Linked DNA regions of Homo sapiens. The protein of the gene in region 1 purifies or fractionates together with the protein of each later gene. This does not show direct contact. Each region holds a gene or a part of one and is shown in the gene's direction. Other genes may lie near its edges.

The links. The genes of interacting proteins can lie anywhere in the genome.
Region 2: the proteins of ARHGAP29 (region 1) and RSF1 fractionate together in Homo sapiens (co-fractionation; one large-scale study listed by BioGRID). This does not show direct contact.
Region 3: the proteins of ARHGAP29 (region 1) and PRP4K purify together in Homo sapiens (affinity purification with mass spectrometry; one large-scale study listed by BioGRID and IntAct). This does not show direct contact.
Region 4: the proteins of ARHGAP29 (region 1) and RTRAF purify together in Homo sapiens (affinity purification with mass spectrometry, with the first as the bait; one large-scale study listed by BioGRID). This does not show direct contact.

The regions. Positions count from the first base shown.
Region 1 is NC_000001.11:94,231,085-94,234,584, reverse strand, and holds part of ARHGAP29 (rho GTPase-activating protein 29), read left to right. Parts: intron 1-2,941; 5' UTR 2,942-2,973; coding exon 2,974-3,178; intron 3,179-3,500. UniProt on the Homo sapiens protein: GTPase activator for the Rho-type GTPases by converting them to an inactive GDP-bound state. Has strong activity toward RHOA, and weaker activity toward RAC1 and CDC42. May act as a specific effector of RAP2A to regulate Rho.
Region 2 is NC_000011.10:77,670,723-77,674,222, reverse strand, and holds part of RSF1 (remodeling and spacing factor 1), read left to right. Parts: intron 1-1,992; coding exon 1,993-2,181; intron 2,182-3,500. UniProt on the Homo sapiens protein: Regulatory subunit of the ATP-dependent RSF-1 and RSF-5 ISWI chromatin-remodeling complexes, which form ordered nucleosome arrays on chromatin and facilitate access to DNA during DNA-templated processes such as DNA replication, transcription, and repair.
Region 3 is NC_000006.12:4,052,300-4,055,799, forward strand, and holds part of PRP4K (serine/threonine-protein kinase PRP4 homolog), read left to right. Parts: intron 1-420; coding exon 421-574; intron 575-3,253; coding exon of another isoform or gene 3,254-3,277; exon of another isoform or gene 3,278-3,500. UniProt on the Homo sapiens protein: Serine/threonine kinase involved in spliceosomal assembly as well as mitosis and signaling regulation. Connects chromatin mediated regulation of transcription and pre-mRNA splicing.
Region 4 is NC_000014.9:51,996,046-51,999,545, forward strand, and holds part of RTRAF (RNA transcription, translation and transport factor protein), read left to right. Parts: intron 1-2,448; coding exon 2,449-2,535; intron 2,536-3,500. UniProt on the Homo sapiens protein: RNA-binding protein involved in modulation of mRNA transcription by Polymerase II. Component of the tRNA-splicing ligase complex and is required for tRNA ligation.

The DNA.
Region 1 (3,500 bases):
ATGTAGAAGTTAGATTCTCAGAAATAATTTGAGATTGACAAAAGGACAGTGAATAAACAAACTTTAAAAATTATAAAGTGTGGTCCCCAGTTTAATAATCAGGAGGAGCAATAATAGAAATCCAACTTTGATTTCAGTTTTATGTAATCTTCCCTCAGCTTCATATACTTTTCTTTTTGAAACATACCATTTTAGAGAGTTTTTTAAAAATTTATATTTTCACTTCAAAACATTGCAACAACCCAGAGTTATTTTTGTTTCTATAAAAATTAATTGAAACTTTATAAGTTTATAAGCCTATCTGCAGATAGTTCTAAGTAGTTCATTCCTCATACGCCAAGCATTGTGCTATGATCAGAGAACACATGGTTAGCAAATAGACATACATGGTCTTGATTTCCATGAGATTATACTCTAGCTAGGAAGACATGATCTATTTGAACTGTGGTATGAGCAGTGATGAAAAGTAGAGGATACTATGGAACATCTCACAGGAGATTCTACTCTGGTTTGATGGTAGTGGTTTTGCTGGGGGATGGGGATGGTCCAGGAACGTTTCTTTGAGGAGGTAAGCTTTGAGCTGAGATCAGAGTGAGTAAACAAAGGAGAAGGAATATTCCAGGCAAATAGAATTACATATAGACAGGACCCTGAGCTGAACAGTTGGTGTTTTTCAAACTGTAGGGTCATGACCTATTATGTGTATGAAACCAAGTTGGTGAGTTGCACCCAGCATTTTTAAAAATGAAATGGGATGGAATTTTTAAAAACTCACATACATCCCATGGAGCCTTACCCAGAAGCATGCCACACACAAACATAATACACTTAACATGTATTATTATGTAAAATTATTTCCTGGTGAGAGTCATCGTAAACAAATACTGTTGGAAGAATGAGAAGGAGGTGTGTGTGGCAGGAGTGTTGAGAGCCAGCAGGTGTGTCTCCATATGACATTGCACAGGTAGGTAGGAGCCAGATCTCATGTTGAGCCTTGTAGAGCATGATAGCTTCTCACTTATACTTTGGAAGGGTTTTCAGTAGAGAAATGACATTATGAGATTTATGTTTGAAATGTTCACTCACTACATTTGTGATGAGACAAGAATGGATGCAGATAGATCATTAGGAAAGTAGTATAGTAGCTCAGAAAAGAAATGATGGTAATTCACTAGTGTGGTAGCAGTAGAGAGAAGTGGGTTGATTAGAGAACCCTGTAGATCAGAAAGAAAAATGAACTATGGAGTTGGGTGAGATATAGGAAGGAGTAAATGATACAATAATGTATCTTACATATGACTAGAAACGGATATTACATAAAACTTCCTAGTGGGCCAGGCATGGTGGCTCATGCTTGTAATCCCAGCATTTAGCTAGGCTGAGGTAGGAGGATCACTTGAGCCCAGGAGTTTGAGACCAACCTGGGCAACATAGTGAAACTGTATCTCTACAAAAAAAAAATTTTTTTTTTAGCTAGCTAGGTGTGGTGTTGTGCCCCTGGAGTCCCAGCTACATGGGTGGCTTTGGCGGGCAGATGGCCCGAGCCCAGGAGTTTGAGGCTGCAGTGAGCTATAATCACACCACTGCACTCCAACCTGGGTGATAGCGTGAGACCCAGACTCAACCCTTCCCCCCTCCAAAAAAAAAAAAAACCAAAAAACTTTCTACTGTAAATTTTATAGAAGTCCTTAGTCATCTACCATTTTTAAAGTAGCCAAATATTCAAGACAAAATACTTGAAAAAAAGTGTTAATAATAAAGTGTGAGTTAATTTAATTCCTCCGGTTATTTCCTTTTTGATTTCCAGAGATACAAACAAGATTAGAACTTTTAACTCTGGAAAGGTAAAATGAGGGTGAAGAAGAAAATAACTATGATTTTCTTGAGTTCCAGCTATGTGCCAGTATTAGGTGTTTTAACATATGAAGTCTTCTAATTTTGTGATCCCTTTTCATCCTCACACAAGCCTGTAAATAAATTGTACTGGTCACATATCTAGAAAATACTAGAGCCAGGATTCAAATCTAAATTCTTCTCATACCAAAAGATTACCTTTTTACTACCATCCTGAGATTATCAAAAATATTGCTCTGATGATCACACGTGTTTATTTAACCAGTCAGAGTATGTCAGATTAGTGGGCACCCTTGTAACTTATTTTCAACAAAGAAATATCCTTGATGAGACTTGGTAATCCAGGATGTGTTGTGTGTGTGTGTCTGTGTATATGTATGTATATGCATTATTAGGAAAAACTAACTGTAATTGAACTTCTATGTTCTCGACACTTCTGTATCATCGCGTCATGTAATCCCTACAATCTCATGAGATAGGTGTTGTCAGGATGTTACTCCCATTTTATAAATGAGCATACTGAAGTAAAGAGATGAATAGATCATACAATAAGTGACAGAGGAGGATTTTAAGAACAGGTATTTCTTTTTTCAAAGCCCATATCTCATCTTTATTTTTGAAGGTGATGTCATGGAAGGAGAATATGACCTTCTACTAAGTGATGTTTCAGAACAACTTTTACAATTAAATAAAATTCTATACCCTAGGAATCAAGAGGAAGTTATTAAGAGCATGGATTTTGGCATCAAGGCAGATACAGGTTTAAGTCCTAGTTCATTATCAGTTGAGAGCTTAAGGCAAATTTTTAACCTCTAAACCTCAGGTTCCTCATTTGTGAAATGTAAAGAACAGTAGTTTGCATGTCAGAGTTGTCGGAATTACTGGTATTTAATAAATGGAAACTGCTATTATCAATAATACAGTGATTGATTATTGATTTTTGATTTTTAAAAATTTAAAAATAGGATACCAAGGTGAGCTGTGGGCTGTTTGTGAAAATCTAGTGTAATATTTCCCTGGCTGATTTAGTTTTTGTGTTTCTTTCTCTCTCCTCGCTTGTTTTTGTTTTGTTTCTTGCCCCCTTAAGGATTTCAGTTTTTCTGACTGTTACATGAAAGGATGATTGCTCACAAACAGAAAAAGACAAAGAAAAAACGTGCTTGGGCATCAGGTCAACTCTCTACTGATATTACAACTTCTGAAATGGGGCTCAAGTCCTTAAGTTCCAACTCTATTTTTGATCCGGATTACATCAAGGAGTTGGTGAATGATATCAGGAAGTTCTCCCACATGTTACTATATTTGAAAGAAGCCATATTTTCAGGTTTGTCACTTTTCTATTAGCATTCTTGCTGGATAGTTTGTAAAATTTTAAATGCTGGCCTAGCAGATAAGTTTGTACACAGTGGTAGGAACAGGGTATTCTGCTTTAGTTATTTTAGTGCTTTTTTCCCCAAATCTTTGATGGTTACAGTGTAAACTATTTTATAATCAGATAATAGTGTAATACCTAATAGAAACTTCAGTGTGAGGGAATAAGAATACAAAAAAGAAAAATATCTTTGATTCCTGTGGTTGGGTCCATTTGACGTAGGAAAATTTGACATCATTGGAATTTTAACCTTTCTGTTAATGGTAACACAGTG
Region 2 (3,500 bases), on another chromosome or scaffold:
GTGGGTTTTTTTTGGTTTTATTTATCTTTTTTCCTAAACCATCTAAATAAGTGATGATAATATCATGCCCCTTTATCAGTGATTATTTCCTAAGGACAAGGACATTTTCTTACATCACCACAATGCAATTACCAAATTCAGATATTTTAACATTGATATAATGCTATTACCTAATTAACAGTACACATTCAAATTTTTAACAAGTATCTCCATATTATTCTTTATATCTTTTTTTTCTTTTCCTAACCCAGGATCCATTCCAGGGCTATGCGTTTATTCACATCTCTTTAGTCTCCATTAATCTGGAATAATCCTCAAATTTTGTCTCATCTTGATATTTTTAAAGAGTACATACTAGTTGTTTTGTAGATGTTTCCCAGTTTTGATTTCTTTTGTTTCCTTGTGATAAGATTCAGATTATGCATTTATAGTGGGAATAGCACAGAGAATGTTGCATCTTCTGAGTCTCTTTATTATTTTTCCTTATAATTAATAAGTAATTTGTGGGAATTTGAGACTATTTAAATATCCTTTTCCTTATATTTCACCTGCTAGTTTTAGTTCCTGTGGATAATTCTAACTCTGTCATTTCTGTTATATTTATTTATTGTTGTTCTGTAAGGAAGAACATTTCCCTTCTCCTCCATATGTTTGTTTATTTATGACAGTGTAAACTCGTGGATTCTTATTCTGATCAGTGGATATACTACATTCCCATCACTATTTAGGCTCCATTTGTCCCAAATTTGGCCAATGAGAACCACTTCAACCTATTGGCTAGCTATTTTGAAATGTTTGAAATCCACAAAAGAATAACAAGCTTGAATGTCGTACTTCGGTGGAATTTAACATTCTGAAAAACAGCTGTGACATAATGCCACAGCCTCACTCTGGCTTATTGATCAGAGATGACAGGAACAATGCTATTTAGCAGTGCTTTGCAAGTTTAACTAGGTCTGTGTGCTTTATTTAGCAGATTTGTATTCTTTATGGAGAAGAGTCAAAAATATATCTTGAGTTCTGTATTTATGTGGAACAGATTCATGAGTTTTCTTTGGTTAGAGGGCATAACCTCTGCAATACATTATGACTATAGTGACAGGTAGAACAGCATATTATCAGGAGGCGGATTTGTGGTAGCCGTCTACCAAGAAGAGCAGTCATGGCAGCTGTGTACCTGACCAGGTAGCTGTAGGTCGACTGCAGTAAGGACTATTTCTAAAAAAGTATAAAACATTTAGGCTGGGTGTGGTGGCTCACACCTGTAATCCCAGCACTTTGGGAGGCCGAGGCAGGCGGATCACTTGAGGCCAGGAATTCAAGACCAGCCTGGCCAACATGGCGAAACCCCATCTCTACTAAAAATACAAAAATTAGCCAGATGTGGTGGCGGGTACCTGTAGTCCCAGCTACTCGGAAGGCTGAGGCAGGGGAATTGCTTGAACCCGGGAAGTGGAGTTTGCAGTGAGCCAAGATCATGCCACTGCACTCCAGCCTGGGCGACATAGTGAGACTCTGTCTCAAAAACAAACAAACTAAAAAGGATAAAACATTTTCTAATCTTGAGGATTCACCGCTAAGAGTATATATTGTGAGGTTTGGCATTAAAAACCTGCACAGATTGAGTCATTTTTTTTTTTTTTAAGGGAGACTTAAAGGCCAGGCATGTGGTAATCTCAACACTTTGGTAGGTAGCCAGGAGTGGTAGTGCATATGCCTGTGATCCTAGCTTTAGCTACTGGGGCAGCTGAGGCCAAAGGATCTCTTGAGCCCAGGAGGTTGAGGCTGTAGTGAGTCATGTTCATGCCACTGCACTCCAGCCTGTGTGATAGTGAGATACTCTCTCAAATAAAATGAGACTCATAAAAGTTACTGTTCACTTAAAAATATTTATGACTGAACTCTGCTTGGTAGCTTTTCATTTTTATAACCTAAGCTACATTTCTAAATAGACTTAAATTTTGTACTTTGTTCTTCCTTTTTTTAAAATAGAAAGTGACTTCAGTGATGATTTTAGTGATGATTTTGTAGAAACTCGGCGAAGGCGGTCAAGGAGAAATCAGAAAAGACAAATTAACTACAAAGAAGACTCAGAAAGTGACGGTTCCCAGAAGAGTTTGCGACGTGGTAAAGAAATAAGGCGAGTACACAAGCGAAGACTTTCCAGCTCAGAGAGTGAAGGTAAGGCATAGGTCTCCTATATATAGAAGTTTGGACAGGGCAAAATAGACATTATAAAGTGAACTCAGGATTGTGATTCTGTACCATTCTTTGAAACTCATATAACCAGGCCAGGCATGGTGGCTCACGCCTGTAATCCCGGCAGTTTGGGAGGCCAGGGCATGCAGATCACTTGAGGCCAGGAGTTCAAGACCAGCCTGTCCAACATGGTGAGACCTTGTCTCTACTAAAAATAAAAAAATTAGCCTGTGTGGTGATACGCGCCTGTAATCTTAGCTACTCAGGAGGTTGAGGCAGGAGAATTGCTTGAACCTGGGAGGCGGAGATTGCAGTGAGCCAAGGTTGTGCCACTGCACTCCACCCTGGGTGACAGAGCAAGACTGTGTCTCAAAAAAAAAAAAAAAAAATCCATATAACCAGTAGTATCTTTGAGATAAAACCTATAATCTTGTGCCTACCATAGTTTAAATAAAAGATACTCGATAAGAGGCTAATTTTTAAGATCTCCATTGTAATTTAAATTTTCATTGAAACTAGAAAAGTCTCAGAAAATTGTGATCTGATCAAGATTATTCTACTTCTTTTTCTTACTCCCTTATTCATGGCCCTCATTTTGAAATAACCTCTTATGTCCTTAATAGCTAAAAGGTTTCAAATAAAAGTGCCTACTGTCTCTTTCACCTTGACTATGATTTCAGTTGGAAACCGAAATCATTATTTCCTAATAGCTATAACTGTGCCCCCTACCAGTAGTACAAGACAAGCTCTAAAATATGAATTTCTTACATCCATTTAGTCTTTTTTGTTTTACTTAAATTATATATATATAGTGTATATATATATACACACATATATACATATAAATATATATATATATATATATATATATATATATATATATATTTTTTTTTTTTTTTTTTTTTTTTTTTTTTTTTGGTGACAGAGTCTTACTCTGTCACCCAGGCTGGAGTGCAGTGGTGTGATCTTGGCTCACTGCAACCTCCGCCTCCCAAGTTCAAACGATTCTCCTGGCTCAGCCTCCCAATAGCTAGGATTTTAGGCATGTGCCACCAAGCCTGGCTAATTTTTGTATTTTTAGTAGAGATGGGGTTTCACCATGTTGGCCAAGCTAGTCTCGAACTCCTGACCTCAGGTTATCCGCCCACCTTGGCCTCCCAAAGTGCTGGGATTACAGGCGTGAGCCACCGCGCCCGGCTTTATGGCCTGTTTTGAAGATTGTTTTGCTTTCATAGATTAAACATGAATTTAAGTTTGAGCCCAAGACAAAAGAGAAAGGGAAAAAAAATGTTTGGATGTGG
Region 3 (3,500 bases), on another chromosome or scaffold:
TCCTCCCGGAGTACAGTGGTGCAGTCTTGGCTCGCTGCAACCTCCACCTCCCGGGTTCAACAGAGAGTCTCTCTTAAAATGAAATACTTCAAGGAAGGAATTTTTATCTTCAACAGTGTGGCTTTGTTGTGTTTTCAGATGTGAATCTATTCTAAAATCGAAATGGGAGTTTTACCTTGCATATCTTTCTTCTTACCTATTTAGAAAATTTGAATTTATTCAGAAACTGTGTTATATACATACAATTTGATATGCTCTCCTTTCAATATAAAATGATTTATCAAATGTGGGGGTGGTTCTTACATATTTTTATTTTGCGCTTGATTTTACTTTATGCTTGCAAATGTTTTTGCCTTTTTATATTTCCATTTTGCATTTTAACTCCTATTTTGTTTTCTTTTTTTAATTTTCTCCTAAAAGCATGAACTTACGAGAGGTGTTAAAAAAATATGGTAAAGATGTTGGTCTTCATATTAAAGCTGTAAGATCCTATAGTCAGCAGTTGTTCCTGGCATTGAAACTCCTTAAAAGATGCAATATCCTACATGCAGATATCAAGCCAGACAATATCCTGGTAAGTCAAACAGCCAAGCTGCGCTGTACATCTTGAACATACATTTCACTTCTTACTAGCAGTAATATTATTACTATGAGAAACGACATCTTAGAAGCATAGTTCAGTATATTAATAACCTATTTCAAATGACTAATACTTTTTTATCTTTCTTGGAAATCGGACAGTGAAATTTTATTGACAAGTATGAAGAAAAAGGAAATGTACAATTGTCCCTTTTTTTCTCTTTTGACTGATAGATTTAAAGTGTGCACCAATCCTGGAATGCTTTACTGTAGTAATGAGTTTCTTCTGTTATCTTTAGAAAAATGCTGCACATGTTGCTGTTTTGAAATAAGGAGTGTCCGTACTCTTCTGTTTGCTAATTTTATAGCTCCCTAAGCTGTGGCTCCTGGGGGCTCAAACACAATAAAGCTCAGTTGTGGTTAGGTATTATATTTAAAGGCATCGCTTTTGAAGTTTATTTTATTTTATTTTTAAACTTTCAAGTTCAGGGGTACATGTGCAGGCTTGTTACATAGGTAAACTTGTGTCATGGAGGGTTTGTACCCACTTTTCCTGATCCTCTCCCATCTCTCACCCTCCAGCCTCTGACGGACCCCAGTGTGTATTGTTCCCCTGTGTGTCCATGTGTTCTCACCTTTTGAAACCTTAATTCTCTTCGACTAGTGACTTCTGGTGGTAACAGCAGATTTCACAATGTATATGTTTTTAAAATTTTGAAATACATACATATTATCATAGTGATGTGATTAATGCACACACACACTCCTCCCCTCCCTGGCCCCATTACTTTACCCTGTTTTGTGGCCTTCAGTTTGGGTCGTGTTCGCAACTTGGAGAATTCCAGCTTATATGCTGGTAACATTCTGCATTTCATTTTTTTAAAATGGGTTCTCTTTATCAGTTCTCCTACAGTTGATGCCTAGGAGAGATCCTGAAGACTAAAAGCTAAGCGTGTAAGGTGTTCTTTATTGGGAACTCTTGGAGCTATAACAAAATAAATACTTTTGATTTTTTCTTTTGTTTTTTTTGTTTTGTTTTGTTTTGTTTTGAGGTAAGGTCTTGTTCTGTCACCCAGGCTAGAGTGCAGTGGTGCCATAATGGCTCACTGTAACCTCCAACTCCTAAGCCCAAGCAGTTCTCCTGCCTCCGCCTCCCCAGTAGCTGGGACTACCCACAGGCACATGCCACTGTGACTGCCTAATTAAAAAAAATTTTTTTTAGAGATGAGGTTTGGCTGGTCTCAAACTCCTGGGCTCAAGCAATCCTCCTGCTGCAGCCTCCCAAAGTGCTGGGATTATAGGTGTGAGCTACCATGCTTGGCCAAGATAAATTCTTTAAAAAATGGTGATCTCATTAAAGTTTAAGGAGTTTTTTTTTAATCAATAACTAAGCTATTTAATTCATATTTCTTTTTCTTTTTTGTTAATATCTTAAAATATTTCCTTTATTTCCTTCCAGACAACCACATTAGTAATGAGGTGTATTCCATTTTTATGTTTGGTCTGAATTATTATTGTATTGTATATCTAATGTAACTTGGAGTTAGGGGAGCTGAGTAATTTCATTGAAATGGTAGGTACATTAAAAATGAAGTATAAATTTGTGTGGCCAATTTCATAGTTGATTTTTACCTCAGTTTTTTTTATGAGACACAGCCTTGCCCTGTTACCAGGCTGGAGTGCAATGGCGTGATCTCGGCTCACTGCAACCTCCAACTCCCTGGTTCAAGCATTTCTCCTGCCTCAGCCTCCCGAGTAACTGGGATTACAGGCAGGGGCCACCACGCCCAGCTAATTTTTGTATTTTAGTAGAGACGGGGTTTCACCATGTTGGCCAGGATGGTCTTAATCTCCTAACCTCGTGATCTGCCCGCCTCGTCCTCCCAAAGTGCTGGGATTATAAGCGTGAGCCAATTTTTTGTTTTTTAATTGTGAAATACATGGTTCATGTCAAAGAATATGCAAAACATGTACAATTTAAAAGGTCATTTACAGTGAGCGTCTTTGTGACCATTGTGGAGGTTAAAGAATAACACATTTGCCAGTGTCACAGAAGAAACTCTTGTTTTTAAAACCTAATGCTAAACTAGTATAGGTTTTCACATACATTTAAGAAATGTTTTCCCGTCTTCCTGGGGAAGGAAAAAATAGACCTTAATGACGGAGCTGATTTTTGTTAATGAAAATCCAAAGCCTTTAGCTCGTAATTTCAGGTATCAGTGTGGTTTAAGTACCACATTCCTCATGACAGGAGCAGAAGTTGTGTAGCAAACTGAAGTGCATATGAGTATGGATACCCTGCTATTCTTTAAGGCATTTTAGCCAGCCCAAGAGTTCCACTGATGGATTCTAATTTTAAAATGGTTCTTAAGTTTTCTGTGGGTATTGAAACTGCTTAAGTAGCTGAATTCAGCTTACACTTTAAAAAGTTTTAAAATAACTTTTCTATTTTAAGATGCTTTTCTGATTCCCAAGATGAAAAGAATAGTAATCAATGTGGGAGTTAAAAATAATCATTTCTGTTCCTATTAATAGCTTAACTCTGGATATCATTTATAATAGTCCAGTCTCCCCATAGAGACTGCCTAAGGCTATAGTGTTATGCTGCTTTGGGGTGGGAGCAGTAGGCCAAGTTCAAGTCCCAACTCGGAATTTGTGTGTGTCTCTTTTGAAGGGGGGAAGGGACTCTGGAATATGAATTATCTTCACTTGTTAATCCTGAACATGCCTCTGACTCATGAGTGGCAGCAGTCATGGGAGCAACTCCAGCCTTTCTCAGCAGATGTCACTATTACTGTGTATGTTGAAGTATTTACAAAGGAAAAAAGAAACAAATGACTAATATAGAGTTCATGTTTATCAGTTTTGCCAGATATATTTAACATTTTCTTGACTAATACCTTCTTTATATTTGAGGGATT
Region 4 (3,500 bases), on another chromosome or scaffold:
TAACCTTCAATGGTAGATGCATATGGTCATGTATACCTGCAGTTGACTTTAGTAAGTACATGTATTTCTCAGTAATAGCATGTTCTTTTAGTGAATAAAAGAAGCTTGTGTGTGGAATGTAAATTTTTCAATATTGAAAAAGGAAGTCAACATATACTTGAAGGTGAATGGTATCAAAAGTATATTAAAAGTCTAAGCTAGAAAACAAGTTTTGTTTATTAAAATTCAGAATTGCAAAAACAGACTTGAAAATTGGTCAAATAATACTGTCTCTAATCGGTAGGAGGCGCTGATGTTCTTTTGTGGTTTTACATTGATATGTTGCCTCCTTGACTTTTAAGTTACTTATTTTAAAATTTGCTGAAACCATTGTGAGTTTTTATTATTTGCGCTCTACTATTTTTTGAAGCCTTTTGGTAGCTTGTCAACATGATCAATAACTGAAATTTTTTAAATGTATAATTTCAGATGTATAGAAAAATTACAAAATAGTACAAAGATTTTCATATACCTCAAGTCTACAAATGTAGCGTGTTACCTCATTTGCTTCATCCTTCTCTCTACACAGAGGCACACACCATTTTTTTCCAAACCATTTGATAGTAAATTATAGATGATTCCTTTTTACTCTTAAACACTTTAAAGTGCATTTCCTAAAAACAACTTTGTCTTATATAACCACAGTACAGTGATCAAAATCAGGAAGTTATCTTTGATATACTATTATTTATTCACATTTTACCAAACCCCCCACTTCTCTCGAAAGAAAAAAATAACCCAGAGCAATCCTGGATTATGCACCGCATTAGTTGTTACATCTGTCTTAGTATCTTAAAATCTGGAACAGTTCCTGTCTTTATTTGTGCTTCATGACCCTGACATTTATTTTGTAGAGTGTCCCTCAATTTGGATTTATATGATGTTTCCTCATGATTAGATTTGGGGTTTATACTTTTGTTAGGAGTAACACAGAAGTGATGTGTTCTTTTTAGTGCATCATATTAGGAGATACGTGATAGCGATATGTCCCATTACTAGTTATGTTACTTTGATCACTAGGTTATGGTTTCTCCACTGTAAAGTTACTATTTTCCTCTTTGTAATAAATATATCTTGTGGGGAGGTACTTTGAGACTGTATCAATTATGTTTTTGCGCCTCAAGTTTCCCCCACTAGTTTTAGCAACCATATGATGATTCTTGCCTCAGTCATTTATTATGTTAATCGACAAAAGGTGTTCTCTAATTTCATCATTTTTTCTACATTTATTTGTTGGCTTTCTCTTGTAAGTTTTCCCATCTCTAATTTACTTGTTTAAATCAGTATAGATACATGGATTTTTATTTTATTCAATGGATTATAATCCTTTCTGTCATCACGTATTTTGCTGTTGATACTGTTCCAGATTTGGCCAGTGGAAGCCTTTTTAACTCTGACTTAAATTTTATGCTTTTATTTTTTCCTCGTTTCATTAACAGATCCCATAAGCACTGTATAGCCTAAGATGCCATTTTGAACATTAAGTTTAGTGAATTATTAATAAGTGTTTTTATTTTTGAATTCCTTTGAAGTATTGTTTTTCAAATGAAAATAATAAAATCTACCTTTGGAATTCTGAATTTCAAGTTTCCATGAAATAAGTTTGAGGTTTGTATATGATGGTGTATTTGATGTATTGATTTTTTTGGGGAAAGCAAGGTTTTTGGATTTTATGTACAGCATTCAAAAGAAGATGGGGGGAAGCGTACTTTTTAATGAGTTTGTATTTAATCTTACGTAACCTATACTTAACCCTCCTCCCATTCTTCTACCCCAGATTTCAGAGGAAGCTGTAAAAGCAGATTTTTACCTTCCTAAAATTTACATGTTTGAAATGATTGCCTTTAGAAATGTTAATGAAAAGATATTTGTGTCACATAGTCCAGTAATTGCTTTAGCTTAATCAAAAAGATAGTTACATTGTCTTTTTACATTTTCTATAGCAAAAATTAAGCTTGATTGAATGAATTGTTTTATGCTTATACAGGTTAAGCATCCCTAATCCGAGAATCTGAAATCCTAAATGCTCCAAAATCCAAAACTTTTTGAGCACTGACATGAGGACACAAGTAGAAATTTCCACACATAAGCACTTAACACAAACTTTATTTCATGCACAAAATTATTAAAAATATTATATGAAATTACCTTCAGGCTATGTGTATAAGTTGTACATTGAACATAAAAATGAATTTTGTGTTTAGACTTCAGTCCCATCCCCAAAATATCCCATTTTATATATGCAGATAATCCGAAGTCTGAAAAAATTTAAAATTGGAAATTATTGGCATTTCCAGTAAGGGAAACTCAACCTGTAATCATTTTGGCTCAGTTAAATTTGGTAAATAGCAGTAGTCATTTTACCTTGAGTTGCAGTTGTACAAATTATATTTTTGCCTGTTTTTATAGCTGAAAAATACAAGGATTTAGTACCTGATAATTCAAAAACTGCTGACAATGCAACTAAAAATGCAGAACCATTGATCAATTTGGATGGTGAGTATATAAATGCATAACATTGAACATCAACATTTTTGGTTTTTTAAATGTTTTTTTCTTTGAAGAATGAAGTCCAGGTTTACTTGGTTTTAGTAAATTTAGAAGGATCCATGCAGACAGCATTTATGTTAACATTTTATTCTCTATAATGTTTTTATGATGTGCTTTCTCCTTCCCCTTGCATTTGAATATCTGAATGTTGATTTGATTTGCTTCTAGTAATTTGGAGTTTTGATTTGTATTTAATCATGGGGGTCATTGTTTGCCTTTTTGAATGTGTAAATTTCTTTTAATCCAATGACTCTATCAGACAAGTGGTAAAATTTTCCATTATTTTAAGTCCTGGATATCTTTTAGTAATTTCCCTTTTTAAAAATATGAAGAATCTAATTACCTAAATTATGATGTGTAAAATATTTGTTCACTGGCTAATTCATTGTGACCTATAATTTAGGAGTTAACCCTTTTGAATGAGTGAGCCTCTTGGACACTCCAGAGCTGCTGCTTAGAGAGAAGGTTTTGGGAAAACTATCCATGGAGGGGATCTATGTACTAAAATTAATGGCCTTGGGAAGAAATGTTAATTAAAAGTGCTGTATAATTTAGCCTTGCAGAAAAAGTTACAGGACAAATATAATGTGAGTTAAATTAGTCATTTATTGGATTATTCAGTTTGGCTGATGAAATACAGATACTCCTTGACTTAGGATGAGATCATGTCCCAAAGTCGAAAATATCATAAGTCAAAAATGCATTTAATACCCCGGAAGACCCATTGTAAAGCTGAAAAATTGTAGTTGGAACCACTGTAAGTTCAGATTTTCCTCATCTTGCACTAGGGTTACATCCCACTGAACTCATTGTAAGGTCAAAAAATTACAAGTCTAACCATCCTAAGTTGGGGACCGTCTCATACAGTAATAGGAAAACCATTTTATCTTACCAATTTATTTAATTGTTGA